Regions from separate parts of the Homo sapiens genome. Here regions 2, 3, 4 and 5 are each reported to be linked to region 1. Evidence: microRNA targets listed by miRTarBase, many of them from high-throughput screens and not tested one by one. Region 1 holds a microRNA gene; each other region holds the end of a gene's coding sequence.

Evidence for each region. Region 1 holds the annotated microRNA hsa-miR-4308 (UCCCUGGAGUUUCUUCUU, at 3,037-3,054, shown strand). A microRNA usually pairs through its seed, bases 2 to 8, with sites in the 3' UTR of a target mRNA and lowers its output. Matches are read on the target gene's strand: a 7mer-m8 pairs with bases 2 to 8, a 7mer-A1 pairs with bases 2 to 7 and ends in A, and an 8mer does both.
Region 2: miRTarBase lists NFE2L1 as a target of hsa-miR-4308. Seed matches in the 3' UTR shown: 7mer-A1 at 2,174-2,180.
Region 3: the mRNA of ZNF585A is a reported target of hsa-miR-4308. Seed matches in the 3' UTR shown: 7mer-A1 at 2,186-2,192.
Region 4: miRTarBase lists FBLIM1 as a target of hsa-miR-4308. Seed matches in the 3' UTR shown: 8mer at 4,003-4,010.
Region 5: miRTarBase lists ZNF619 as a target of hsa-miR-4308. Seed matches in the 3' UTR shown: 7mer-m8 at 3,937-3,943.

Annotation. Positions count from the first base shown.
Region 1 is chr14:54,874,862-54,881,176 of GRCh38, reverse strand. MIR4308 (microRNA 4308) reads left to right here and starts at 2,984; the gene lies at 2,984-3,064. All of the region lies in intron 1 of GCH1 (GTP cyclohydrolase 1), which reads left to right.
Region 2 is chr17:48,059,239-48,063,238 of GRCh38, forward strand. It overlaps NFE2L1 (NFE2 like bZIP transcription factor 1), which reads left to right. Exons shown (of 6, transcript NM_003204.3): 6 at 1-2,307. The coding sequence ends at 403. Among named protein-coding and RNA genes, the nearest start is that of NFE2L1, 13 kb to the left of the region's middle.
Region 3 is chr19:37,145,646-37,151,960 of GRCh38, reverse strand. It overlaps ZNF585A (zinc finger protein 585A), which reads left to right. Exons shown (of 5, transcript NM_001288800.2): 5 at 1-6,315. The coding sequence ends at 372. Among named protein-coding and RNA genes, the nearest start is that of ZNF585A, 24 kb to the left of the region's middle.
Region 4 is chr1:15,782,612-15,788,926 of GRCh38, reverse strand. FBLIM1 (filamin binding LIM protein 1) reads right to left here. Exons shown (of 9, transcript NM_017556.4): 9 at 2,338-4,379. The coding sequence ends at 4,266. Among named protein-coding and RNA genes, the nearest start is that of UQCRHL, 22 kb to the left of the region's middle. RefSeq lists enhancers at 1,007-1,771, 1,772-2,536.
Region 5 is chr3:40,487,725-40,492,692 of GRCh38, reverse strand. It overlaps ZNF619 (zinc finger protein 619), which reads right to left. Exons shown (of 5, transcript NM_001145093.4): 5 at 1,640-4,968. The coding sequence ends at 4,452. Among named protein-coding and RNA genes, the nearest start is that of ZNF619, 13 kb to the right of the region's middle.

The DNA of each region.
Region 1 (6,315 bases):
AACAAATGCCAGCATGTGTATGAAGACCTTAATTTAAAAAAATATTTTTATTGGCCTGGCGCGGTGGTTCACACCTGTAATCCCAGCACTTTGAGAGGCTGAGGAGGGCGGATCACCTGAGGCTGGGAGTTCAAGACCAGCCTGACCAACATGGAGAAACCCTGTCTCTACTAAAAATACAAAAATTAGCCAGGCATGGTGGCACATACCTGTAATCCCAGCTACTCGGGAGGCTGAGGCAGGAGAATCGCTTGAAGCTGGGAGGTGGAGGTTGCGGTAAGCCGAGATTGCAGCATTACACTCCATATATTATGGAGTATATATATATGGAGTATATATATATATGGAGTATATATATATATATATGGAGTATATATATATATATGGAGTATATATATATATGGAGTATATATATATATATGGAGTATATATATATGGAGTATATATATATATATGAGTATATATATATGGAGTATATATATATGAGTATATATATATGGAGTATATATATATATGGAGTATATATATATGGAGTATATATATATGGAGTATATATATATGGAGTATATATATATATGGAGTATATATATATGGAGTATATATATATGGAGTATATATATATGGAGTATATATATATATGGAGTATATATATATATATGGAGTATATATATATATGGAGTATATATATATATGGAGTGTATATATATATATGGAGTATATATTTATATGGAGTATATATATATATGGAGTATATATATATTTTATATATTATGTATTATATAATATATATTATATTATATATAAAATATATATTTTATAATATATTATTAATGAAATTTCTCACATATACAAGACTGTATGAACAAGTTTAATCAAAATACATTGGGTTTTGACAAATCTTAGTATTTTGCTATAATTGCTTTTAAAAAATACAGATAGTTTAAACTTCCTAGTTATCACTTCCTGATCCAGTTATCATCTCACTACAGAGGTAACCACTATACTGAATTTGGTCCCTAACTTTCTTTTTTTTTTTGAGATGGAGTCTTGCTCTGTTGCCCAGACTGGAGTGCAGTGGCATGATCTTGGCTCACTGCAACCTCCGCCTCCGGGTTCAAGCAGTTCTTCTGTCTCAGACTCCTGAGTAGCTGGGATTGCTTTCATGTCTTTTTTTTTTTTTTTTTTTTTTTTTGAGACAGAGCCTTACTCTGTCACCCAGGCTGGAGTGCTGTGGTGCAATGTTGGCTCACGGCAACCTCCGCCTCCCAGAATCAAACGATTCTCCTGCCTCAGCCTCCTGAGTACCTGGGATTACAGGCATGTGCCACCACACCCAGCTAATTTTTGTATTTTTAGTAGAGATGGGGTTTCACCATGTTAGCCAGGCTGGTCTTGTACTCCTGCCCTCATCGGCCTCCGAACGTGCTGGGATTACAGGCGTGAGCCACTGCGACCGGCCTCATGTCTATTTTTATACTTTCATTTTCTGTATATGTTTACAAACAACATGTAACATTGTTTTTACTTAATTTAAATGGCTCATACTCTACATATCCTTCTGCTACACGCTTTTTACACTGAATATCCTTTCAAGGATTTATAAATGCAGCCCAAATTTACTGACTTTCATTGCTGGGTCATATTTTATTGTGAGTTTACCCAAACTGTGTAATTGTTCTTCTGATTCACTCTTCTCTATTTTTGCTATTACCAACAAGATGGCAGTGATTTTTTTTTTTTTTTTTTTTTTTTTTTTGAGACAGGGACTTGCTCTGTTGCCCAGGCTGGAGTGCAGTGGTGTGATCTGAAGTCACTGCAACCTTCGCCTCCCAGGTTCAAGTGATTCTCGTGCCTCAGCCTCCCAAGTAGCTGGGACTACGGGTGCATGGCACCACATCCGGCTAATTTTTGTATTTTTAGAAGAGATGGGTTTTCACTATGTTGGCCAGGCTGGTTTTGAACTCCTGACCTCAATTGATCCACCTGCCTTGGCCTCCCAAAGTGCTGGGATTACAGGCGTGAACCACTGTGCCCAGCTGAAAATTCTTATGTTCCCTTGGCTGCATGAATTTCTTTGGAGTCCCTTCATTTAAAAATGTATTTTAAGGAAGTGAATTGGTCCAGCGTGGTGGCTCACACCTGTAATTCGAGCACTTTGGGAGGCTGAGGTAGGAGGAGCTTGAGCCCAGGAGTTCAAGATCAGCCTGGGCAACATAATGAGACTCTGTCTCTACAAAAAAATAAAAAATTAACTGGATATGGTGGCATACCTCTAGTCCCAGCTACTGGGGAGGCCAAGGTGGGAGGATTGCTTGAGTCTGGGAGATGGAGGCTACAATGAGTGGTGATTGCACTGCTGCACTCCAGCCTGGGTGACAGGACGAGACCTTGTCTCAAAAAGAAAAAAAAGTGAATCATAGAGTAAAGACAGACATATTAATTGAATAAACACAGAAGATCTATGTTTAACTCCAGCTTTGTGCATGGTGTTACAGGGAAGTGTGTAGAAGCTCCAAAGCCTTCAGATATAATGCTTAACTCAGAAACTTATAGCCCAGTGTGTCTGTGGGACGTGGGCACAAATAACCATGGTACTACGAGGCATGATGAGATAAGCGCTGTATGCTGGTGGAGGTAGCTCTGATATTAGATGGAACTATGAGGGTCTGGACCATTCTCCACCAAATCAGGATAGGCTTATCTTTGTTAGCACCTTGAGTTGATTTAATTCCAGCCAAAAGCAGAGGTGTGATGCCCTAGGCACTTCTCTCTGTCTCTTCTCTTAATTTTAAAACCAGTAGGCAGACTCCATTAGCTCTTTCCTATCCTTTAGGATGGATGCTCACTCAGATGTTCCAAGTCATCTTCCACTGTCTTTTAACTCTGTCCTTCCAGGGAGATGCGTCAGGTGTCCGGCTTCCTCAGAGAGCTGGAGTTGTTGGTGCTGATCACCAGATACTCCAGACGGCACTAATTCCTATACTATGGGTTCAGAGGGAACTCCATTGGACAGAAATTTCCTTTTGAGGAAATCTTTCCCTGGAGTTTCTTCTTACCTTTTTCCCTCACTTTCTCCACAGCAGAAACAGGTCTGTTTGTCCTTAAATATTTACCTATATATTTGAGTAGGAGCATTTTGAAGAGATGAAGTTTCTGTGTAGCAGCACAAAACATGAAATAGTTCAAACCAGGGGCACTCTGGTTCTCAGACCGGGAGCTTCAGGATCTTCTGGGAACTTGTTAGAAATGCAAATTCTCAGGTCTGCTCAGATCACCTGAAACAGAAGCCCTAGGGGTGGGGCCTAGAGATTTGTGTCTTAACAGGCCCACAGCGGGAGTCTGGGAACCCCTGTTTCGAAGTATGCTTAAATAAGCACTTGGGGGCCAGGCATGGTGGCTCATGCCTGTAATCACAGCACTTTGGGAGGCCAAGACAGGCAGATCCCTTGAGCTCAGGAATTTGAGACCAGCCTGGGCAACATGACGAAACCCCATCTCTACAAAAAAATACAAAAATTAGCCAGGCATGGTGGCTTGCGCCTGTAATCCCAGCTACTCAGGAGGCTGAGGTGGGAGGATCACCTGAGCCTAGGAGGTGGAGGTTGCAGTGAGCTGAGATTGTGCCGCTGCATTCCAGCCTGGGCAACAGAGGGAGACCCTGTCTCGAGAGAAAAAAAAAAGCACTTGGGCTTGTATTGTGGGCCTGTCTTACTATACTTTCAGAAAAGGGTCTGGCAGACTAAATACTTGAGGGATGTTACCCAGCAGTGTTATTTGTTGACATTGCTTAATTATGAATGACATGAGAAAGGTATACCTGAAAACTGACATTGTGTGGTGTTGTTGTAGACAAACCTTTAACTTGTGGAGGCTGCTTTCATTTTGTTTGTGGTTGTGACCAACCGTAGGAAACAGAATGCCATAAATCCCTGTTTCCAGGGTTACCTTCTTGCTGCTGATAACAGGCAGGAAATTAAAACAATATGTGATAGTGTTCTGTTCTTATTACCTACAGATGGTAGCTTTTAGATATGTTGGAGCAAAACATAAGTAAATATAGCAGGGAAACTTTATTACTGAAGAAAAATGATTTGGCTAGGTCAAGGTTATAGTCTGGTTCATTTTAATAAAATGGGGCATAGGCAACATATCAGTGTTCCATTATCACATGAAGCATTTAGCTGTATGAGGATCACTAGATTTTTTTTCTCTTTGATTTAATTTTGAGTATGTAAAACATTTACATGATTCCAAGGTCAAAACTGTGTAACAAATTATATTCAAAGATGCTTCCCTTTCATCCATATCCCTTCTGTCTCTTCTCTTACTGCTTTGCAGGTAATCATTTTTACTAGCTTCTGAATTTATCCTTCCAGTGTTTCTTTTTGCAGATAAGCATATACATTCATATGTATATGTCATATGTTCATAGCTCCTCCTTCCACTTTCATTACACAAAAGGCTACATACTATACTACAATTTTAAAAATTATTATTATTATTATGATTTTTAGAGACAGGGACTTGTTCTGTCACCCAGGCTGGAATGCAGTGGTGTAATCATAGCTCACTGCAGCCTCAAACTCCTATCCTGGGTTCAAGGGATCCTCCTGCTTCAGCCGCCTGAATAGCTAGGACTATAGGCACATATCACCATGCAGTACTTTATAATTTTTTTTTTATTATTATACTTTAAGTTTTAGGGTACATGTGCACAATGTGCAGGTTTGTTACATATGTATACATGTGCCATGTTGGTGTGCTGCACCCATTAACTCGTCATTTAACATTAGGTATATCTCCTAATGCTATCCCTCCCCTCTCCCCGCACCCCACAACAGGCCCCGGTGTGTGATGTTCCCCTTCCTGTGTCCAAGTGTTCTCATTGTTCAATTCCCACCTATGAGTGAGAACATGCGGTGCTTTTTGTCCTTGCAATAGTTTGCTGAGAATGATGGCTTCCAGCTTCATCCATGTCTCTACAAAGGACATGAACTCATCATTTTTTATGGCTGCATAGTATTCTGTGGTGTATATGTGCCACATTTTCTTAATCCAATCTATCATTGTTGGACATTTGGGTTGCTTCCAAGTCTTTGCTATTGTGAATAGTGCCACGGTAAACATACGTGTGCATGTGTCTTTATAGTAGCATGTTTTATAATCCTTTGGGTATATACCCAATAATGGGATGGCTGGGTCAAATGGTATTTCTAGTTCTAGATCCCTGAGGAATCGCCACACTGACTTCCACAATGGTTGAACTAGTTTACAGTCCCACTAACAGTGTAAAAGTGTTCCTGTTTCTCCACATTCTCTCCAGCACCTGTTGTTTCTTGACTTTTTAATGATCGCCATTCTAACTGGTGTAAGATGGTATCTCATTGTGGTTTTGATTTGCATTTCTCTGATGGCCAGTGATGATGAGCATTTTTTCATGTGTCTTTTGGCTGCATAAAGGTCTTCTTTTGAGAAGTGTCTGTTCATATCCTTGAGAAGTGTCTGTTCATATCCTTCACCCACTTTTTGATGGGGTTGTTTGTTTTTTTCTTGTAAATTTGTTTGAGTTCATTGTAGATTCTGGATATTAGCCCTTTGTCAGATGAGTAGATTGCAAAAATTTTCTCCCATTCTGTAGGTTGCCTGTTCACCCTGATGGTAGTTTCCTTTGCTGTGCAGAAGCTCTTTAGTTTAATTAGATCCCTTTTGTCAATTTTGGCTTTTGTTGCCATCACTTTTGGTGTTTTAGACATGAAGTCCTTGCCCATGCCTATGTCCTGAATGGTATTGCCTAGGTTTTCTTCTAGGGTTTTTATGGTTTTAGGTCTAACGTTTAAGTGTTTAATCCATCTTGAATTAATTTTTGTATAAGGTGTAAGGAAGGGATCCAGTTTCAGCTTTCTACATATGGCTGGCCAGCTTTTCCAGCACCATTTATTAAACAGGGATTCCTTTCCCCATTTCTTGTTTTTGTCAGGTTTGTCAAAGATCGGATGGTTGTAGATATGCGGCATTACTTCTGAGGGCTGTGTTCTGTTCCATTGGTCTATATCTCTGTTTTGGTACCAGTACCATGCTGTTTTGGTTACTGTAGCCTTGTAGTATAGTTTGAAGTCAGGTAGCGTGATGCCTCCAGCTTTGTTCTTTTGGCTTAGGATTGACTTGGCAATGCGGTCTCTTTTTTGGTTCCATATGAACTTTAAAGCAGTTTTTTCCAATTCTGTGAAGAAAGTCATTGGTAGCTTGATGGGGATGGCATTGAATCTATGGCCATTTTCGCGATATTGATTCTTCCCACCCATGAGCATGGAATGT
Region 2 (4,000 bases), not on the chromosome of region 1:
TGAACTGCTGTCCAAATACCAGTTGAGTGAAGCCCAGCTGAGCCTCATCCGAGACATCCGGCGCCGGGGCAAGAACAAGATGGCGGCGCAGAACTGCCGCAAGCGCAAGCTGGACACCATCCTGAATCTGGAGCGTGATGTGGAGGACCTGCAGCGTGACAAAGCCCGGCTGCTGCGGGAGAAAGTGGAGTTCCTGCGCTCCCTGCGACAGATGAAGCAGAAGGTCCAGAGCCTGTACCAGGAGGTGTTTGGGCGGCTGCGAGATGAGAACGGACGACCCTACTCGCCCAGTCAGTATGCGCTCCAGTACGCCGGGGACGGCAGTGTCCTCCTCATCCCCCGCACGATGGCCGACCAGCAGGCCCGGCGGCAGGAGAGGAAGCCAAAGGACCGGAGAAAGTGAGCCTGGGGAAGAAGGGGGTTTGAAGCCCACCAAGACCGAAACTGGAGAAGGGCTGGACCTGGACCTGGACCTGGACCTACAGCGGGGACTTAAATGCCTTCTTATCCAATATATCTTCTCAGATGGGATGACTGCGGGTCAGTGTACAGGAAGAGGCAGGCACTGGCTGGCTCAGCTCCACTCGGGTGGAGTGGAAGTGGCCAGACCATTTAGACGGACAGGGTCCTCACCCTACCCCTTTCCTGTGAGGCAGGGGTGGTGGTGGAGTTGCTGGAGGTAGAGGAGCTATGTGGAGCAAAGGCCGACAGAGGGGAAGGAATGGACCTGTGAGAGGAAGGGAAGGTGGCAGAAAGTCTCATTTCAGGAAGGAGGGATAGAAGGAAGGAAGGAAGGAACCCCCCCCCCCCCGAAAAAAAAATCAAAGCGGGAAGAAAATCAGAGGGAAGGTTAAGGTTGGCTCTGGCCAGGATTCCAGGCAGCAGGTTGGAGTGACTGGTGGGCCTAGATCACTGGTGTGATAAACCCCAATTTTCACCCCGGGGGGGGTGGGGTACACAGACACAGGGTGGGGGTGGGGAGGGACGGTGTTAACTCTTTCTGCTCCTTGCATTTTGACATCCCTGAAGGGGAGCTCTTGGATATCATTGGCCATGTTTCAATCGAATGGAGCCACTGGGCCCCAACACTGGCTTTGAGATTTAGAGTCAAAGGGTAGAGTGAACAGGAAAGGGTCACGTGGTCCCATGTTGCAACAGCCCCAACATCACGCATGTCATTCACTGCCTTGCCACTCCATCTCCCTCCGTGCTCCAGCCACCCCTGAGCTGAGGCTCCCATTGTCTCCATCAGAGCCTGCATGTGTATGCCGTCCTCCCCTGGTCCGGTGTTTGTGTTCCCCACCCCTCACAGACTGCCTGAGCTCTTCTGTAAGCTGGGGTAGGGTGATGGCAGTGCTCCGGGAACTGGGCCTGCAGCCTTCCTCTTCTGGGACTGCTGTGAGGCAGAGGAATGATGGAGAATCTAGTGTAGCAGCCTCCAGGCAGGATTCAGCACAACACTGGGGAGTCACCCTTCCCTCGGGCCTCTGCCTACCAACAACTGGGCTTATCACTGGGAAAACACAAAAAATTACACAACCCAGCAACAACAAAAGAACTAGTCCTCTTAGAATTTCTTGCGCTTTGATTTTTTTAGGGCTTGTGCCCTGTTTCACTTATAGGGTCTAGAATGCTTGTGTTGAGTAAAAAGGAGATGCCCAATATTCAAAGCTGCTAAATGTTCTCTTTGCCATAAAGACTCCGTGTAACTGTGTGAACACTTGGGATTTTTCTCCTCTGTCCCGAGGTCGTCGTCTGCTTTCTTTTTTGGGTTTCTTTCTAGAAGATTGAGAAGTGCATATGACAGGCTGAGAGCACCTCCCCAAACACACAAGCTCTCAGCCACAGGCAGCTTCTCCACAGCCCCAGCTTCGCACAGGCTCCTGGAGGGCTGCCTGGGGGAGGCAGACATGGGAGTGCCAAGGTGGCCAGATGGTTCCAGGACTACAATGTCTTTATTTTTAACTGTTTGCCACTGCTGCCCTCACCCCTGCCCGGCTCTGGAGTACCGTCTGCCCCAGACAAGTGGGAGTGAAATGGGGGTGGGGGGAAGCACTGATTCCCAGTTAGGGGGTGCCTAACTGAGCAGTAGGGATAGAAGGTGTGAACCTGGGAGTGCTTTTATAAATTATTTTCCTTGTAGATTTTATTTTTAATTTATCTCTGTGACCTGCCAGGGAGAGGGGAGAGAGAGAGAGATGCTGTTGAGCACATGACAAAATAAAATAAAATGGATGATTCATTCTTAAGTGCACTTTTTCCCCACTTTGAATTTAAATTGAGAATAAAGGAAATGGACTCATTGTAGGGAGGACTGGCCATTGCGTGGCTAAGGCAGAGCTCACATGGGAAGATGGGTGGAGAACTGGGGAGGTTGACAGTGGGGAACTTCAAAAGGCAAGTCTTAAATATTGTATTAAACCTTGGGGGCAGGCATTAGACACCATGTACTTCATAGGGTTAGCCAGCTCAATCCTCTCAGGAAGGATTCGGAGTTTTTTTATTCTCATACAGCTAGGATAGGTGGAGGTGTCATTTAACCCAGCTCTTTACCTGTCCACCTGCTACAAACTACATTTTTAAACTCAACTGTGCTGTTATTTTTCTATTGGCCTCACCTGCCAAAGGGGTGCAGAGAATTGGAGTGTAGTTATGATGTTGAAAACCTGAGAAATCCATGGCAGCGACTAACATGTGACAAGCACTACTGTGTTAAGCAGGAGCAGGGCCACTAAAGAGAAGCAGGAGGCCAAGGTTTAGGACACTGGGAAACCTCCCCAGCTGAGGGGGCTAGAATCTGCTTTCCCTCAAACTGCTCAACTACCCGCCCTGTGAAGAGCTGTAATGTGTGAAGGTCTCTGGGATGCTGGAACTTCCACATGCCCATGTTAGGGCAGGTGTTTAGTAGATGCTGGAAGAATGAACACTCACTCAGCAGTCTTTTTATTGGCAGGGTCTTGCTTTGTCTCCCAGGCTGGAGTGCAGTGACGTGATCTCGGCTCACTGCAACTGCCACTGGGCTCAAGCCATCTTCCCACCTCCGCCTCCTGAATAGCTGGGACTACAGGCGCACGCCACCACGCCTAGGTAATTTTTGTAGAGACAAGCTTTCGCTATATTGCCCAGGCTGGTCTCAAACTCCTGGCATCAAGTGATCCGCCTGCCTCAGCCTCCCAAAGTGCTGGGATTATAGGCGTGAGCCATTGCACCTGGCTTCTGTGAGATTATTGGGCAGGGTTTAGGAGTGGAAGCTATGATCCTCTTAATGGAAGCTGTGATCTCAAACTCCTGGATACCACCCTGTAACCTGGTTCAGCTCAGTCCTTTAGTGATACTACTTCAGTAATGTTTACAATTCAGTAGAATTGTAAGAATAATGATGGTTTCTTATGTTTCAGTTTATAAGAGCCTCTCCACAACTCCCCAGTCTCCAGTTGGAAAGGTTTGGTCATATCAAACAAGAACTCTTTCCTAATTCAGAATTGACTAAAGTCTGTAAGCCAGATAAAACCAAGATACGTAAAGGGGTGAAAAAACCAAGACTAAAAATTAGTTTGAGGCCTGGTGCGGTGGCTCACGCCTATAATCCCAGCACTTTGGGAGGCCGAGGCAGATGGATCACCTGAGGTCAGGAGTTCAAACACGAGCCTAACCAACATGGTAAAACCGTCTCTACTAAAAATACAAAAACTAGGCGGGTGTGGTGGCGGGCGCCTGTAATCCCAGCTACTCAGAGACTGAGGCAGGAGAATCGCTTGAACCCGGGAGGCAGAGGTTTCAGTGAGCCAAGAGCGCGCCATTGCACTCCAGCCTGGACAACAAGAGCAAAACTTCCATCTCAAAAAAAAAAAAGGTTTCAAAAACACATACCAATACTTTAAGAAATACAAATTATATATAGAAGGGTAAACTGTGAGAAGTAAAATTAAGTTTTAATATTCTTGTACCCTTCCTAGAAATGTATGTACAGTCATGTGTTAACGGCCAACATATATTCTGA
Region 3 (6,315 bases), not on the chromosome of region 1:
TCAAATCTCAGTAAGCACCAGAAAACTCATACCGGAGAAAAGCCCTACATTTGTTCTGAATGTGGGAAGACCTTTCGACAGAAGTCAGAGTTGATTACACATCACAGAATTCATACTGGAGAGAAACCTTATGAGTGCAGTGACTGTGGGAAGTCTTTCACTAAAAAATCACAGCTCCAAGTGCATCAGCGAATTCACACTGGAGAGAAGCCTTACGTGTGTGCTGAGTGTGGGAAGGCCTTTACTGACAGGTCCAATTTGAATAAACATCAGACAACACACACTGGAGACAAACCCTACAAGTGTGGCATCTGTGGGAAAGGCTTCGTTCAGAAATCAGTGTTCAGCGTCCATCAGAGCAGCCACGCTTGAGAGAAACAGTGTGAGAAAACCCCCCTGAGGGTTGGGTCTGATTGTACACTGTTGCACGCATGCAGCAGAAAAATATGTATATTATTGTAAATAGAAATGACCACAGCAGAATGTCACACATGGCTGTTCTGGAGAGGGCCTCTGAGAAGGCACTGAATGAGGCGAGGGACCCTTCCTACATTGTCACCATCCCCAGTAAACCTTGGGTCATTATTCATACTGACAAGGAACCGAGTCAATTTGGTGAATAGGAAAAGCCTTCTCATGAAAACTACAATAGAATACTGTTACCAAATTCTTCCTAAGAAAGATCGTATTAAGTTAACGATAATCCTGTTTACTGTGGATTAGGTATAGTGCCAACAAATTGAATGATAAAACAACATAATACGTAGTTATTTTGATAGTGATGAATCCTAAGTTATGTGAGTTGTTCGTTGTGGAACACATTGTGTAACAGACTCCTGGGTGTTTTTCTTTCTCATTCGAATCTACCACAGTTGGTCATATCCAACCCTCATTCAGTATTTCTATCAAGAAAGAGATGCTACAAAAAAAAAAAGAAAAAACCTTTATGTATACAGACGTAAACCTCAGAATGTATGTTGAGTCCCCACTGTCATCTACCAAGACTTGCACCCCCCTCATTATCTACCATGACTGTCTCTCAGCCTCACGGGCCCTCAGCACTTTGTGTTTTGACCCCCAGCACCGTGTCTTGTGAACTCCCATCACCTTCAAGAAAGCTTCCGAGGTAAGAATTTTATGGTCATCTGGGACAACTTAAATCTCCCTTCTGCTGTCATAGTTCTTCCAACTCAGTTGCCTTTTTTTTTTTTTCGTACTCATCACTGACTTGAAGCTTAGTATCTGGCTTCCTTAAGGATGTAACTTTCATGTAACAGATTAATAACTTATATGAAAACCAACACAACCATATGTTTAGGGCTGGAAAGGGCCATGACGCCTGGCCATTTTTCCTGTTTTACCTTACTCTTATGTGTGTCACACTTCATCAATTCCGGAAACAGTTTCTGGAGATCTCCTCATTACCTCTTTTACAATCACCTCACTCCAGCATGGTGTCTGTTACCTCTTCCCACTTGTGACAATGTCTAGTAAGGTCCACTCTCCATTCTGTGTGATGACCACTTATTACAACCCTCAGAATAGGGGACAGTGGTGTGCCCCCTGCAATACAATGGTTTCTATCTCCTGATACTTTTATTACACCTCTAGCAGGATGTCTTGTGATCCTCCTTATTGATTTTTCCCTCACGATGATGAACAATTATCTCCCGTTACTCACCTAGCAGTATCTAACTGTCCCTAACACAGCATGTGGGAATGCCCTCAATACGGTGGATGCTGTTAACTTTCTTCCTTCCCCTCAGGCAATGGCGGTGACTTACAATGAACCATAATGTCCACATTTCCCAACTGTATTTTGGAGCCTCTTCTGTCCCCTTCTTTCTAGGACCCCAGTTAAAAAAAAAAAAAACAAAAACTAGCCCAATGTCTGTTGATGCCCATTAATCACTAACACAGTGTCTGACCCCTCCATTAAATTTTGATGGTATCTCTTGGCTCCCCATTGTCCCGTTAACCCAATGTCTGCTGATTCCCAATTTCCCACATTGCTTCATGCGGTTCCTTAGTCACCCTTGGCTACTGTACTTCCCCCAAGATTGCATCTCCATGTTTGCATGGTCATGATCCCTGGAAGATGGTGATGAGGATGAGGTCCCAGCCTCATAGACCTTTTCCTCTGAGTTCCCCCCAAGGCACAATGGAATGATGGACCCAGGGTGGGCCAGGGATGATCTGGAGATCTCAGGAGACCACAAGCTGGGCTTCCTGTCTACTACATGAGTATGGTGTGAGCAGAACAGTGAAAGCTGTCTATGTTGGTTCAAATTCTGGTGCCAACACTGATCCACTTAGGGACCCTCAGCCTGCCCAGAAACCTCCTCTGGGCCTCAATTTTCTCACTTGTAAAATGGGATTATGGGAGAATGAAGTGACTTTTTTTGGGTCACATGATGGATGGGATCCAAGCCAGCAGGGCCCAATGACAGCATCCTGTTAATATTAGTCATCAGTCAACATAAGCATCTGACTATCCTCTGTATGCCCAAGCCTCATGAAGGGAAACAATTTATTGTAAATGACTTTTGATTATTTCTCTTATATATTTATTGTAACAATATTATAATACTTACGTATATGTATATGCATATACCCGTATATACGGAAGGCTTTATTTTTTAGAGTAGTTTTAGGTTCAAAGCAAAATTGGGTAGAAATTACAGAGGTTTCCCATATATCCCCTAATCCACATATGCATAGCCTCCCACATTATCAGCATTCCTCTCAGAGTAGTATATTTGTTACAATTGGTGAACCTCCACTGACACTCATTACCACCCCAAGTCTATAGGTTATATTAGGGTTCATCCTTGGTGTAACACCATAGAATGTGTCTTGTACTTTCTGCTTGTTGGAGCAAGTGGATCATGGCATGTTTCCACTGTTATACACAGAGTAGTTTCACTGCCCTAAAAATCCTCTGTGTTCTGCCTGTCATCCCTTCATCTCCTCTAATCCTGGCAACATTTTTTCTGTCTCCATAGTTTTACCTTTGATCTTTTATATCATATAGTTGAAATTATACAGTGTGTAGCCTTTTCAAATTGACTTCTTTCACTTAGTAATGTGGATTTCAGTTTCCTCCATGTCTTTTCATGGCTTGATAATGCATTTCTTTTTAGAGCCAAATTATGTTCCATCGTCTGGATGTTTATTTATTCACCTACTGAAGGACTGTTGGATGCTTCCTTTTGGCAATTATGAGGAAAGCTGTTATAAATATCTGTGCAGGCTTTTTGTGTGGACATAACTGAAATATTTTTAAAGTTATATTTATTGAGGTATAATTTACATTCAGTAATAGTCACACTTTTTAGTGTAGAGTTCTGAGTTTTGACAGTTGTATCTAATCATGCAATCAACACCACAATCAAGATGAAGAACAGGCCCCTCACTTCCCTAACTTCTTTCCTATCCCTTTTTAGTCCCTTTTCCCACTCCCAGCCCTTGGCAATCACCAGTCTGTTTCCGTCTCTATAGTTCTGCCTTTTCCATAATATTGTATAAGTGGAGTCCTTGTGTGTGTGTGTGTGTGTGTGTGTGTTTTGTACGTGTATGTATATCTCCTTTTGAGTCGGAGTGCTTTCATTTAATGTGATGTATCTGAGATTCATCCATATGGTTCTATGAAAAACAAATGGAAAATAAGGTGATGAAAAGATGCTCAACATCTTTAATTATCAGGAAAATGTAAATCAAACCACAATGAGATACTACTATAGAATGGCTTTTAGAATGGCTAAAAATGAAAACGTGCCATAAATTGGCAAGAATACAGACCAATGGAAATTTTCATGCATTGCTTGTAGGATTGTAAAACGGTCTGTCCACTATGCACAAAAGTTTGGCAGCTTCTTATACTATTAACCATACATTTATCATATGACTCAGCAACTCCACACTTAGGTATTTACCCTAGATGAAAGAAAAATTCTGTTTACATGAAAACCTATACTCAGATGTTCACAGCAATTGTATAATTGCCCAAATTAGGAAGTAACACAAATGTACATCAGTGGATGAGTGATTAAACAAATTGTGTACACCAATACTATGGAGGGCTGCTCAGACATAAAGAAATGATTTATTGACACTTACTACAACATGGATGAATCTCAAAAGTGCTGTTGTATTTTAGGTAAACCATGTGATAACTTGAATTACATTTGATAAAAGATTTATAAGTGTAAAAACTAGATTTATATATTTTAATTTTATATGTGCCTGTCATTACATACTATAGAAAATTGTGTCTACAGTATGTTATATAGCATATTGTAATATTTATTACTGTATATTCCTTGTGACAATAAAATAGTTTGTATTTTATATAATAGTACCTGTTTTATAGTATATGTTTTATTTTATATGATTACCTAATTTTAATATTTTACATATCAAACTTTCACATAATATTTTGGTTATTTCTACTTTCACGTAGTTGCATTTAATGTTTGTAGTGTAAAGATATAACTACAATAAAAGAGGCCAGAGAGTCTGCAGTTGGAGTTAGTCAACATTTTTATTTGTCAGGCATCTCAATTCTGGCTGTTTTAACATCAAGGATCTTTTCTCTGGCTTTGGGCCTTTGCACCGACTGTTCTGAGAGTGCTCTGCTTCTCCAGTGCCCGTGCATCTTGCTTTCCTCTTCCACCTTTGCAGTGCCTCCATCCCCATCTTATCCTGCCATTGAAGTAACACATCTGTAGAGCTCACTTGCTGCTCCCTTATTTTGTATGATATTTGCATTGCAAATACTATTACTATCTGACCTGATTCAATATTCCTTTTTTTGGTTTCTCATCCCTCTTCCCCACTGGACCATCAGCCTCATGAGAACCAGACTTTGTCTGTCCTGTTTCTGCTGTATACCAGGCGCCCAGCACGGTGCCAGCTCAAAGCAGATGCTCAGTACAAGCTTGTTAAATGGATGAATGAATAATAGCAATAATATCGAGGTTGACCAGATGCCCCGCACAGATTGGTAACATGTGTGGGGAAGTTGGTGGGGTGGGTTTGGGTCCTCTAATTCAAGATTTAATGCCTCCTCCCACCATGGTCCAGCACACCCAGCTCTAACTCCATGTCAGGGCAGTACCAAACTGAGTATCCTACCTACATACATTCCACACTGTTTACAAGATCTAACTTAGCCTCCTCCTGGTCACAGTGGCAGGTCACATAGAGGGGGAAAGGGGCAGGAGTGGGGGATCCATAGGCAGGGGGCCACTCCCATCAGCATCTAGCCTAGCACTTTCTATCCTGCACCCCATTGTCAGTGTCACCTGCCCCACCTCCTCCACTGGAGCAGCCACTGGAAAATATAGAACCCCAGGAGCAAGAGGAATGTGGCAGGGCTGAGGGTTCTGGGGCTCAGGCACCTTGTTGGATAATGGATGTGATGCAGTGTGGCAGACATTGACCCCGTGGCCAAAGTCAGCTTAAAGCCAAGGTTGTCATGGACACTTCCCATAATGCCAGGATGAATCACACCCTCCACCCTCAGCTCTCAAATGGGCTACTAGTGCCAATGTGACTATTTTTTATTTTTATTTTTTTTGAGATGGAGTCTCACTCTGTTGCCAGGCTGGAGTGCAGTGGTGTGATCTTGGCTCACTGCAACCTCTGCCTCCCGGGTTCAAGTGATTCTCCTGCCTCAGCCTCCGAGTAGCTGCGATTACAGGCACCCACCACCACACCCAGCTAATTTTTTGTATTTTTAGTAGAGATGGGGTTTCACCATGTTGGCCAGGATGGTCTCAATCTCCTGACCTCACGATTTGCCCACCTCGGCCACCCAAAGCATTGGGATTACAGGCCTGAGCCACCTCGCCCAACCCAGTGTGACTATTTATGGTATATCCTACACCTCCCCACCACACTCTACTCCACATTCCTCATACCGTACCATACCGTACACCATGCCATAGCATACCACTTACAGTTTTACTTAATTCTATAATTATATTGTTTCTATTAATGGTTTTAAATATAATCAACACAATTATACTTTATAACAAATATCAGAATCCTTGTCATTATTATATGCCTCTAAATTATTAAGATATCATAAATAACAACATATCAATTCTGATGCTAAGAAATCCTCTGTCTCTGCTAGTTTCTGCCACCTTCAGGTGTTTGTATTATATAAACACAGTAGTCCCACCCCTGGGCTGATGTTTTCCACCCTCTGTGAAATCAGCACAATTAGGTTACATCCTTAGTGATTTTATTATGGTGTTATTTTAATATTTATTATAACAAGGAATGCTGCTATTAAAACAAAAAATT
Region 4 (6,315 bases), not on the chromosome of region 1:
AAATTTGTTGACTGCAGGCGTGTTCCTGGTGGTCTGATTGACAGGCATCAACGTGACCATGGAGGGAGTGACGGCTAGAGAATTTCAGGGTTCACAAGATGAAGCCAGTGACTCATGAACTAAGCTGAAATCTCTCAGCCTAATACTTCCCTTTCTCTCACAGCAACTCTCCATGATAGATTAGAACTGTTCCAACTTGGCTGGGCATGGTGACTCACGCCTGTAATCCCAGCTATTTGGGAGGCCAAGGTGGGAGGATTGCTTGAGCCCAGGAGTTTGAGACCAGCCTGAGCAACATAGTGGGACTCCATCTCTATTTATTTATTTATTTATTTTGAGATGGAGTTTTGCTCTTGTTGCCCAGGCTAGAGTGCAATGGCGCGATCTCAGCTCACTGCAACCTCCACCTCCCAAGTACAAGGGATTCTCCTGTCCCAGCCTATCAAGTAGCTCATATTACAGGCATGTGCCACCAGGCCCGGCTAACTTTTTTGTATTTAGTAGAGATGGGGTTTCATCATGTTAGTCAGGCTGGTCACGAACTCCTGACCTCAGGCTATCTACCCGCCTTGGCCTCCCAAAGTGCTGGGATTACAGGCATGTGCCACCGTGCCTGGCCTCTTTTTTTTTTTTTTTTGAGACGGAGTCTCGCTCTGTCACCAGGCTGGAATGCTATGGCGCAATCTCGGCTCACTGCAACCTCCGCCTCTCAGGTTTAAGCAATTCTCTTGCCTCAGCCTCCTGAGTACCTGGGATTACAGGTGCGCACCAACACACCCAGCTAATTTTTTTGTATTTTTAATAGAGTCGGGGTTTCACCATGTTGGCCAGGATGGTCTTGATCTCTTGACCTCGTGATCTGCCTGCCTTGGCCTCCCAAAGTGTTAAAATTACAGGCATGAGCCACCACGCCCGGCCTCTATTTTTATAATACATTTTATATATATATATATATATATATATTTTTTTTTTTTTTTTTTTTTTTTTTTTGAGATGGAGTCTTACTCTATCACCTAGGCTGGAGTGCAGTGGCGCAATCTCAGCTCACTGCAGGCTCTGCCGCCCAGGTTCAACCGATTCTCCTATCTCAGCCTCCCAAGTAGCTGGGATAACAGGCGCCTGCCACATCGCCTGGCTAATTTTTGTATTTTTAGTAGAGATGGGGTTTCACCATGTTGACCAGGCTGGTCTTGAACTCCTGACCTTGTGATCTGCCTGCCTCGGCCTCCCAAAGTGCTGGGATTACAGGTGTGAGCCATCGCGCTCAGCCAATAAATAAAATGTTTTAAACTGCTCCAGATGAGAACATCAAGGCTGAGGGTTACTAACTTGTCCACGCTATTGAGTACAGAGATAGGTCTGAGATCTGGGTGGCCTGTCACCAAGCCAGTGCTCTTTCAGGCCAACTCTTTCTGGGCCTGTGCTCACCAAGTGAGCCCAGGGGTCAGTGTGCAAGCTTGAAAAGGGAGAGCAGCCTAGTTATGTGCAGGGAGCACGCCCTGGGGGTGTTTTTTTTTTATTTTTGAGACAGGGTATCATTCTGTCACCCAGGCTGGAGCGCAGTGACACAATCACGGCTCACTGCAGCCTCGACCTCCTGGGCTCAGGTGATCCTCTTACCTCAGCCTCCCAGGTAGCTGGGACTATAGGTGCACACCACCGTGCCCAGCTCATTTTTCATAGAGACGGGGTTTCGCCATGTTGACACGGCTGGTCTCAAACTCCTGAGCTCAAGCCATCCACCCACCTCGGCCTCCCAAAGTGCTGGCACTGCACCCAGCCTGACTGTTGATTCTTATTTTTTTGAATCAGTCTATCACCCAGGCTGGAGTGCGGTGTTGTGATCTCAGCTCACTGCAACCTCTGCCTCCCAGGTTCGAGATTCTCCTACCTCAGCCTCACGAGTAGCTGGGCCTAGAGGCAAGCACCACCATGCCCAGCTAATTTTTGTATTTTTAGTAGAGGCGGTGTTTCACCATGTTGGCCAGGCTGGTCTGAAACTCCTGGCCTCAAGTGACCCGCCCACCTCAGCTTCCCAAAGTGCTGGGATCACAGGCATGGGCCACCACGCCCGGCATGAGTGTTAATTCTTAAAGCATTTGGCAGCCCTACTGAGGCTCCTGCAGCCAACCCCATCAGTGGTGGCCTGTGTCCAGGAGAAGCACACCCAGTGAGTTGGCCGGCCCCAGTGCTGGGCATGAGGCAGGAAATGAGCCCCTCCATCTGCTGAGCTGAGCCCCAGCACTCTTCGGACACTCCCGCCACAGCGAGCAGATGCCCAGGGCTACTACCAAACGCCAGCGTTTACCTGTGTGAGAGCCTACACACAACATGGAAGAGCTTCTAACACTTATGCATTTATTTTCATGTGTAAGAAGAAAAACGTAACTAGCACGTGAACATGACTGCATGGATACACGGCTCAGCACGAGGCTAAAGTCAGAAGTGAGTGAAAACAAAATAGCATGTTGATTTAAGTGAAATAACAGAACAGGAGGCCTTTGGTTATAACAATTGTGGAGGTGGTCTGTGAATGCAGAAGTTCGGGACTCCCTGCTCTAGGCTCAGGGCAAGACGCTGTGGTCTGGGCCGAAGCCCCTGGGGTTCTACAGAGAAGCCTGCCCAGTGCACGGCCCCTGTGGCATTCTCGTGGGAGCGTGTGAGACCCCAGGGAGGGAAGCACATTCTGTTTAACTTGTCCGTGCCGTACAAAATGTCTTAGAAGTGATAAAGCAACAATGATGATTCTCCTTCAAAGGGAAGAAGAATCTTCCAGGTGTGGTCTTGAGGACGCAGAGGTTACAACACAGGCTGGGCTGCAGGGCCCAAGTAGGACTTGAGGTCATAACCAGAGGACTGAAGGGACACCTGTCCTGGCACCATACTGGAGAAGTGCTTGTTTGTGTTTGGGGGAGAGGGGGTGCATGGCCCAAGTCAAGGCTGAAGGAGGAACGCTTGGCCCCTGCACCCTGTTCCCAGCATATACCAGGCTCTCACCCCATGCCTGCTGACTCAACACAGCACCCGGGAGGTGCCGCCAGAAGGCAGGTCGGGGGATGCTGACATCCCGGGGTGTCTGCGGACCACCCTCTCCTCTTGGGTCTGGGCCCTGGCCCCACTTTGCACCACACATTCCAGGGCGGGGAAGTCCATGGCTGTGCCCCAACTGGGTCCCATTCCTGTACATGTGCGAACCAAGGGGGTGTTTGCTATTATGCTCCCCACTAAATCCAAAGAATGTTGGTTCCCATCATTTCAACCTCAACATTTTCAAAAAGCACTTTTTTTTTTGGAGACAGAGTCTCGCTGTGTCTCCCAGGCTGGAGTGCAGTGGTGCCATCTCAGCTCACTGCAACCTCTGCCTCCCGGGTTCAAGCAATGCTCCTGCCTCAGCCTCCTGAGTAGCTGGGATTACAGGCGCACGCCACCACACCCAGCTAATTTTTGTATTTTTAGTAGAAACGGGGTTTTGCCGTGTTGGCCAGGCTGGTCTCAAACTCCTGACCTCAAGTGATCTGCCTGCCTTGGCCTCCCAAAGTGCTGGGATTACAGGCATGAGCCACCACATCCGGCCTAAAAGGCACTTTTTTTTTTTTGAGACGGAGTTTCCCTCTTGTTGCCCAGGCTGGAATGCAATGGTGCAATCTCACTGCAACCTCTGCCTTCCAGATTGAAGCAATTCTCCTGCCTCAGCTTTCCCCAGTAGCTGGGATTACAGGCACCTGCTACCATGCCTGGCTAATTTTTGTATTTTTAGTAGAGACAGGGTTTCACCATGTTGGCCAGGCTGGTCTTGAACTCCTGACCTCAGGTGATCCACCCACCTTGGCCTCCCAAAGTGCTGGGATTACAAGCGTGAGCCACCATGCCCAGCCTCTAAAAGGCACTTTTTAAGGGACCTTGGAGTTTGTCCTCAAACAGCTCAACCCCACAGGCGAGGCTGGTCCTAGCACCCCTACCAGACAGCTAGTCAGTGAGAGGGGTCCAACCTCCCCCAGCTTTTCCCTGGAAGTGGGGCAGGGTCAGCAGGGAATTCTGGGGGTGAAGCTCATGGTCCAGGAGCCTTCTGGTGCCCAGAGGGTAGAGGAGTGGAAGGCCTGGGGGTGCTCAGCCCCACTGTATCCTGGACAGGCTGGGCCGGCTTGCAGGCTGGTCTCCATGGAGGCTCAGAAGGAAAGTGTGCAAGAGCAGGTTAGGAAGGGAAACCAAGTCAGGGAAGGGCCCCAGCCGGGGCTAGTGGTCTGTTCACTGCCCAGCGGGCACTCTCAGCAGCACCCCGCAGCACTCCGCTTCACATGGCATGGCTTGCAGAAGAGATGGTTGTTCAGGGGGTAGCAGCCTTGGTCCGTGGGCTCGACAGACAGGAGGATCCTGCAGTCCTGGGGAGACAAAGACACATGCTGACCCGCCCTGGGCCTGGGCGCTGCCTGCACAGGGGAGGGACTCACTTGGCATCTGCCGAATAAACCAACTGCATGAGTGGATGCCCTTCCTAAGTGGGAGGAAGGAGGCTGCTCACTGCTGCCCTCCCAACACCCGGGCCAGGTCTCCATAAGGGAAGATGAGACACAGACACACATGGAGGCTTTAATCCACGTGGAGGCGCCGGTGAGGACAGACATTCACCGTCAGGAGAACTAAGGACACCTGGGGAAGTCCCCTGAGGGTTCAGGGAAAGTTGGGGCTAGAAGAGTCTTAATAGCTCCTTTATTATTTTTTAAAATTTGTTTTTATCATTTATTTATTTTGAGACAGTCTTGCTCTGTCGCCCAGGCTGGAGTGCAGTGGCACGATCTTGGCTCACTGCAACCTCTGCTTCCCGGGTTCAAGCGATTCTCCTGCCTCCCAGGTAGCTGGGATTACAGGCGTGTGCCACCACACCCAGCTAATTTTTGTATTTTTAGTAGACAGGGTTTTGCCATGTTGGTCAGGCTGGTCTCGATCTCCTGACCTCAAGTGATCCGCCCACCTTGGCTTCCCATGCTGGGATTACAGGTGTGAGCCAGTGCGCCCGGCTTCAATAACCCCTTTAGAACATAAATTCTGGGCGGGCGCGGTGGTTCACGCCTATAATCCCAGCACTTTGGGAGGCTGAGGCGGGCGGATCACAGGGTCAGGAGATAGAGACCATCCTGGCTAACACGGTGAAACCCCATCTCTACTAAAAATACAAAAAACTAGCCGGGCGTGGTGGCGGGCGCCTGTACTCCCAGCTATGTGGGAGGCTGAGGCAGGAGGCAGGAGAATGGCGTGAACCCGGGAGGCAGAGCTTGCAGTGAGCCGAGATCGTGCCACTACACTCCAGCCCGGGTGACAGAGCGAGACTCCATCTCAAAAAAAAAAAAAAAAAAAAAAAAGAACGTAAGTTCTACGAGACAGGAACCCTGTTTAAGGCCAAGTCCCCATCCCAGCACAGGCCATGGGTATCTGCTGATGAGTGCCTGAATCTAGTCCAGTCCCTTCATTTCACAGGTGGGATACCAAGGTCCAGGGAGGAGTGGGCTCTGCCCCAGGTCACACAGCTGGTTCTGGAGCTGGGACCAGACTGGGTCTCCAGGATCTGGCTCCAGGGGCCTTTCTGTGACTCCACAGCCCACACAGCTTCAACACCAGCACAAACATTAATATTTTCTATTTTTCAAATCACCAAAGGATTTCAGAATGAGGAACACAGGGACTCGGGGCCCAAATTCTACCAACGTCACTGTTCTGCCCCAGAAACCTCACCTGGGCACATGCTAGAGAATAACAGGGGGGACAATTTGCGCGCAGAGACTTGGTTCTGGGCACCCTTTGGAAGCTGCACTGATCCCACAAAAGAGTCCTTATAGGGGGCCAGGCGCAGTGGCTCACGCCTGTAAGCCCAGCACTTTGGGAGGCTGAGGCGGGCGGATCATGAGGTCAGGAGTTTGCGACCAGCCTGGCCAACATGGTGAAACCCCGTCTCTACTAAAAATATAAAAATTAGCCGGGCGTGGTGGTGGGTGCCTGTAATCCCAGCTACTCATGAGGCTGAGACAGAATTGTTTGAACCCGGGAGGAGGTTGCTGAGATCGCGCCACTGCACTCCAGCCTGGGAGACAGGGCAAGACTCCGTCTCAAAAAAAAAAAAAAAAGAGTCCCTATAGGGACTACTTTGGGGTCACAGGTGGCCCTCCTTATGCAGTAGGGACCAGGGTCTGCAATCTGCCTTCCTCCATGGCCAGCTGGGTGAGGCACCCCTGTGTGTCTCCTCCCTACAAGGCCACTTGAGTCTCTCAAGTAGACCATGGGCTATACAACTGCACCATCTGTGCCACCTGTTTGGCACTGTAA
Region 5 (4,968 bases), not on the chromosome of region 1:
GTCGCCCAGGCTGGAGTGCAGTGGCAAGATCTTGGCTCACTGCAACCTCCGCCTCCCAGGTTCAAGCGATTCTCCTGCCTCAGCCTCCCAAGTAGCTGGGATTTCAGGCGCCCACCACCATGCCCGGCTAATTTTTGTGTTTTTAGTAGAGACGGGGTTTCACCATATTGGCCAGGCTGGTCTCGAACTACTAAACTCAGGTGATCCACCCACCTCGGCCTCCCAAAGTGCTGGGATTACAGGCATGAGCCACTGCGCCCAGCCTATATTATATATATTTTATAAAATATATATATAGTGGCTTGGTCTCACAACTCAACTCTAGCATAGCATCATATGATGCGTAACATTATCCTTTTTTAAATTAAATTAAATTTTAAAAAATTATTTTTAGTAGAAACACAGTTTTCCTATGTTGCCCAGGCTGGTCTTGAACTCCTGATTTCAAGTGATACTCCTACCTTGGCCTCCCAAAGTATTGGGATTACAGGTGTGAGCCACCACACCTGGCTACAAACTTCCTTAACTTAAACATTCCTTTCTGGTAACTCCAAGTTCTTAGACCACACTTTGTTCTTCTAAACAATTACAAATTAAATAATCTCTGGCCCCGCACGGTGGCTCACGCATGTAATCTTAGCACACGCCTGTAATCCCAGCACTTTGGGAGGCTGGGGCGGGTGGATCACTTGAGTTCGGGAGTTCAAGACAGGCCCGGCCAACATGGTGAAACGCCGTCTCAACTCAATTGCACCACTGCATTCCAGCCTGGGCAACAAAGCAAGACTCTGTCTCAAAAAAAGAAAAAAAAGACTCTCTGAACCCACCTATGACCTGTATTCCTCTGCTTCAAGATATCTTGCCTTTTGGGACCAAACCAATGTATAACCTCCATGTATTGATTGATGGCTTTTTGTGTAGCTTCTGCTTCCCTGAAATGCATAAAACAGAGTTACATTCTGACTGCCTCAGGACTACTTACTCAAGGTTTCCTGGGTTTGTGTTTTCTCCAGGCCACGGTCACTTCACATTGGCTCAGGTTAAACGTCTCTGAAATATTTTTCACAGTTTGTTTTTTTACATTAAGTGCTGGGATTACAGGCATGAGCCACCGCGCCCGGCCACAAAGGTTTTTTTAAAAATGTAGTTTTTTAAAAAACAAAGGTTTTTTTAAAAAACCTTTGTGGCCGGGCGCGGTGGCTCATGCCTGTAATCCCAGCACTTTGGGAGGCTGAGGCGGGCAGCTTACCTGACGTCAGGAGTTTGAGACCAGCCTGACCAACATGGAGAAACCCCATCTCTACTAAAAATACAAAATTAGCCAGGCATGGTGGCGCATGCCTGTAGTCCCAGCTACTCGGGAGGCTGAGGCAGGAGAATTACTTGAACCTGGGAGGCAAAGGTTGTGGTGAGCCAAGATCGCGCCATTGCACTCCAGCCTGGGCAACAAGAGTGAAACTTCGTCTCAAAAAATAATAAATAAATAAATAAACCTTTGCATGTTGTTATACTGCCCTGAAGCAGTGATTCTGAGAAGGGTCAGTCTCTAGGCAGTAGGCCAAACCAGTGAGATCATAATGTCTGGTAAGATCAGTGTCAGTCTGTTTTCTGTTACTATAACAGAATATCACAGATTGGGTAATTTATAAAGAAAAGAAGTTTATTTAGCTCATGGTTCCGAGGGCTGGGAACTGTGGAGGGGCCGTATCTGGCCTTCTTGCTGTGTCATAACATGATGGAAAGCATCACATGGCAAGATGGCAAGAGCATGCATGTCAGCTCAGGTCTCCCTTCCTCTTCTTATAAAGCCATCAGTCCCATCATATGGGCACCAACCCCCATGCCATGTATAACTTTTAACTCCCCAAAAATGTAACTACTAATAGTCTACTGTTGACCAGAGCCTTACTGAAACAGTCGATTAACACATATTTTTTATGTTATACATATTAGACACTATATTCTTATAATAAAGCTAGAGAAAATATTAAGAAAATCATAAGAGAAATTATATTTAGTAAATATAATTCACTATATTATATGGATCATCATAAAGGTCTGTATCCTTGTCATTTTGTTAAGCAGGCTGAGAAGGGGAGAGGAGGGAGACTGGTCTTGCCATCTCAGGGGTGACAGAGGCAGAAGAAAGTCCATAAGTGGACCCACACAGTTGAAACCCAAGTTGTTCAAGGACCTCCTGTAATCTCTAAGAAGGTTCAGACTTTCCCTAGTCTTCTCTTCTAAGCCTTGGCCAAAATCACCCTTAATGCTCCATTAGATAATACAGGCTTTGTCTGACCTGATCTTCCAGATTTTTCAAGCCTCTACCCATTACTCAGTTCCAAAGCCACTTCTACATTTTTATGTAAATGTCAGAGCAGCAAACCTACTTATGGCTATCAATATTCTGTCTTGTTACATTTTGTGTGGCTCTAACTGAATACCATAGACTGGGTAATTTATACAGAATAGAGGTTTATTTAGTTCACAGTTCTGAAGGCTAAGAAGTCCAATATAAAGGTGCAGGCATCTGGTAAGGGCTTACTTGCTGCATCATGACATGGCAGGAGGCATCAAAAGGCAAGACAGAGCAAGCATGTGTCCCAGTTCCAGTTGCTCTTCCTCTCCTCATAAAGCCACCAGTCCCATCATGGAGGCTCCACCCTGATGAACTTGGCTAATCCTGATCACCTCTTAAAGACCCCCCACCCAGTACTGTTACAATGGGGATTAAGTTTCAACAAGAATTTTGCTGGGGATATTCAAACAATAGCAATCTGCACACTGAAAACATTTCTTGGTGTCATCAAAACAGTTCTTTATAAAACTAATTTAAAAGTGCCACCAATAAAATTCAGATTTAATCATAGGGAAATCTGGAGTAGGTGTGAGGACATATCCAAGGGCCTGCATAGTAACTCATCAGGAATGGACTCACTTCTGAGAAACTACAGCAAGTCATGGTCAGGTTTCTCTTCTTTGCCTCTGGTGCTCACCAGTGTGATGCCAACAAGTTCCATCCATGTACAGCTTTAGAGATTACTATACTCAGGCATCTACCCTAAAGGGTACAAGTCCAAGTCACTTTTTGTACCTACATATATGAGTGGGTACTGAAATTCAACAGATATGAAAAGGAATAGAGGCTGGACATGGTGGCTCAAGCCTGTAATCCCAGCACTTTGGGAGGCTGAAGTGGGAGGATCATTTGAGTCCAGGAGTTTTGAGACCAGCCTGGGCAACATGGCAAAACTCTGTCTCTACAAAAAATACAAAAATTAGCTGGGTGTGGTGGTGTATGCCCCCAGGGCTCAAGCAATCCTCCCACCTCAGCCCTCTGAGAAACTGGGAGGCTGCACTACCTCCCAGCTTCTTGGGAAGCTGAGGTGGGAGGATTGCTTGAGCCTGGAAGGTCAACACACTGCAGTGATCCATGATCGCACTACTGCAATCCAGCCTGGATGACAGAACAAGAACCTGTCTCAAAAAAAAAAGGAAAATGAAAATAGAGAAGGAACCCAAATTGAAAAACCATATCCCCTTCCAATAAAGCTCAAAGACATAATTTTACATTATTGCTATCAATGCCAACTCATCACTTCATTTTCTTTTTGCATAAAAGGACCCTCATAATTTTTTATACTATCAAGGTAATAAAAAATTCCAAGTCTTACATTCTTTCAGTGAGCCTTGCCCCTGGTCCACCAAATGGCCCTCCTTAACTCCTGAAAGCAGGCCAGATGCAGTGGCTCATGCCTGTAATCCCAGCACTTGGGAGACTGAGGCAGGTGAATCACCTGAGGTCAGGATTTTGAGACCAGCCTGGCCAACATGGTGAAACCCTGTCTCTACTAAAAATACAAAATTAGCGGGGCGTGGTGGTGCATGCCTGTGGTCCCAGCTACTCGGGAGGCTGAGGCATGAGAATCACTTGAACCCTGGAGGCAGAGGTTGCAGTGAGCCAAGATCACACCACTGCAAACAGCCTGGGTGACAAGAGTGAAACTCCGGCACCACCCCCCACCCCCTAAAAAAAAAAAAGCTCTTGAAAGCAATCATTGGACACTTTATCTGATTATGTTCTCCCATAGGCTTTGCATTTCTCCTAGTCTCTAATTATAATGCCCCATCTCATCATAATCATAATGCCATATGCCCTAAACCCCAAAATGTTCTGCAAACTCTTCCAACTCCAGTAGCCCCAGAAGAGAGATGCAGACTGATAATACAGCCCAAATGTGGACACGATAAAGAATAAGTACTGCCATTTCCTACCGGGGGATAAAAGAAACTAATCAAACATGGTCCTTAAGCGTGAGAATTTAAAATGAAGTTAGGAAAACAGTAACAACTTATACAAGACAAGACCAGAGGAATATCAATAGACACAATCAGGAGACCAGTGGAATCCCTAACTTGAGGTGCAAAGGATTTTGAGAACGTGACGGGGCTTACAGGGAGTGAGACAAAGGATTCGGGCTCTGAAGGGATGACTTCCCAGGAAAAGCGAGATCCTGAAAAAAATGTGCTATTTGGACAGGTGAAGGGTTGGCCTTTTCAGATGAGGGAAGCAGCAGGAAGAAAGGCACAGAGGGAGGAAGTACCACTGCATGTGAAGAAGATAAGGGAGGCCCTGGTGGGGCTAGGGCAGAGCAGGTATGTTGGGGAGGCAGAGGAGAGAGGATGGCGCAGGGACAGTAGGGCTTAACTGCGGATAGCCCTGTTCCATTGATGAGTTTCTTCCTAGTATGCCACTTCTGATGCTGGATGAAACTTGCATTCCATCTGAAGGCTTTCCCGCACTCCTTACACTCATAAGGTTTCTCCCCAGTGTGAACTCGCTGATGCTGAACCAGAGTGATCTTTTGACTGAATGTCTTCCCACATTCCTGGCATTCATAGGGTTTCTCCCCATTGTGGATTCTCTGATGCACTATGAAGCGGGAGCTACAGCTGAAAGTTTTCCAA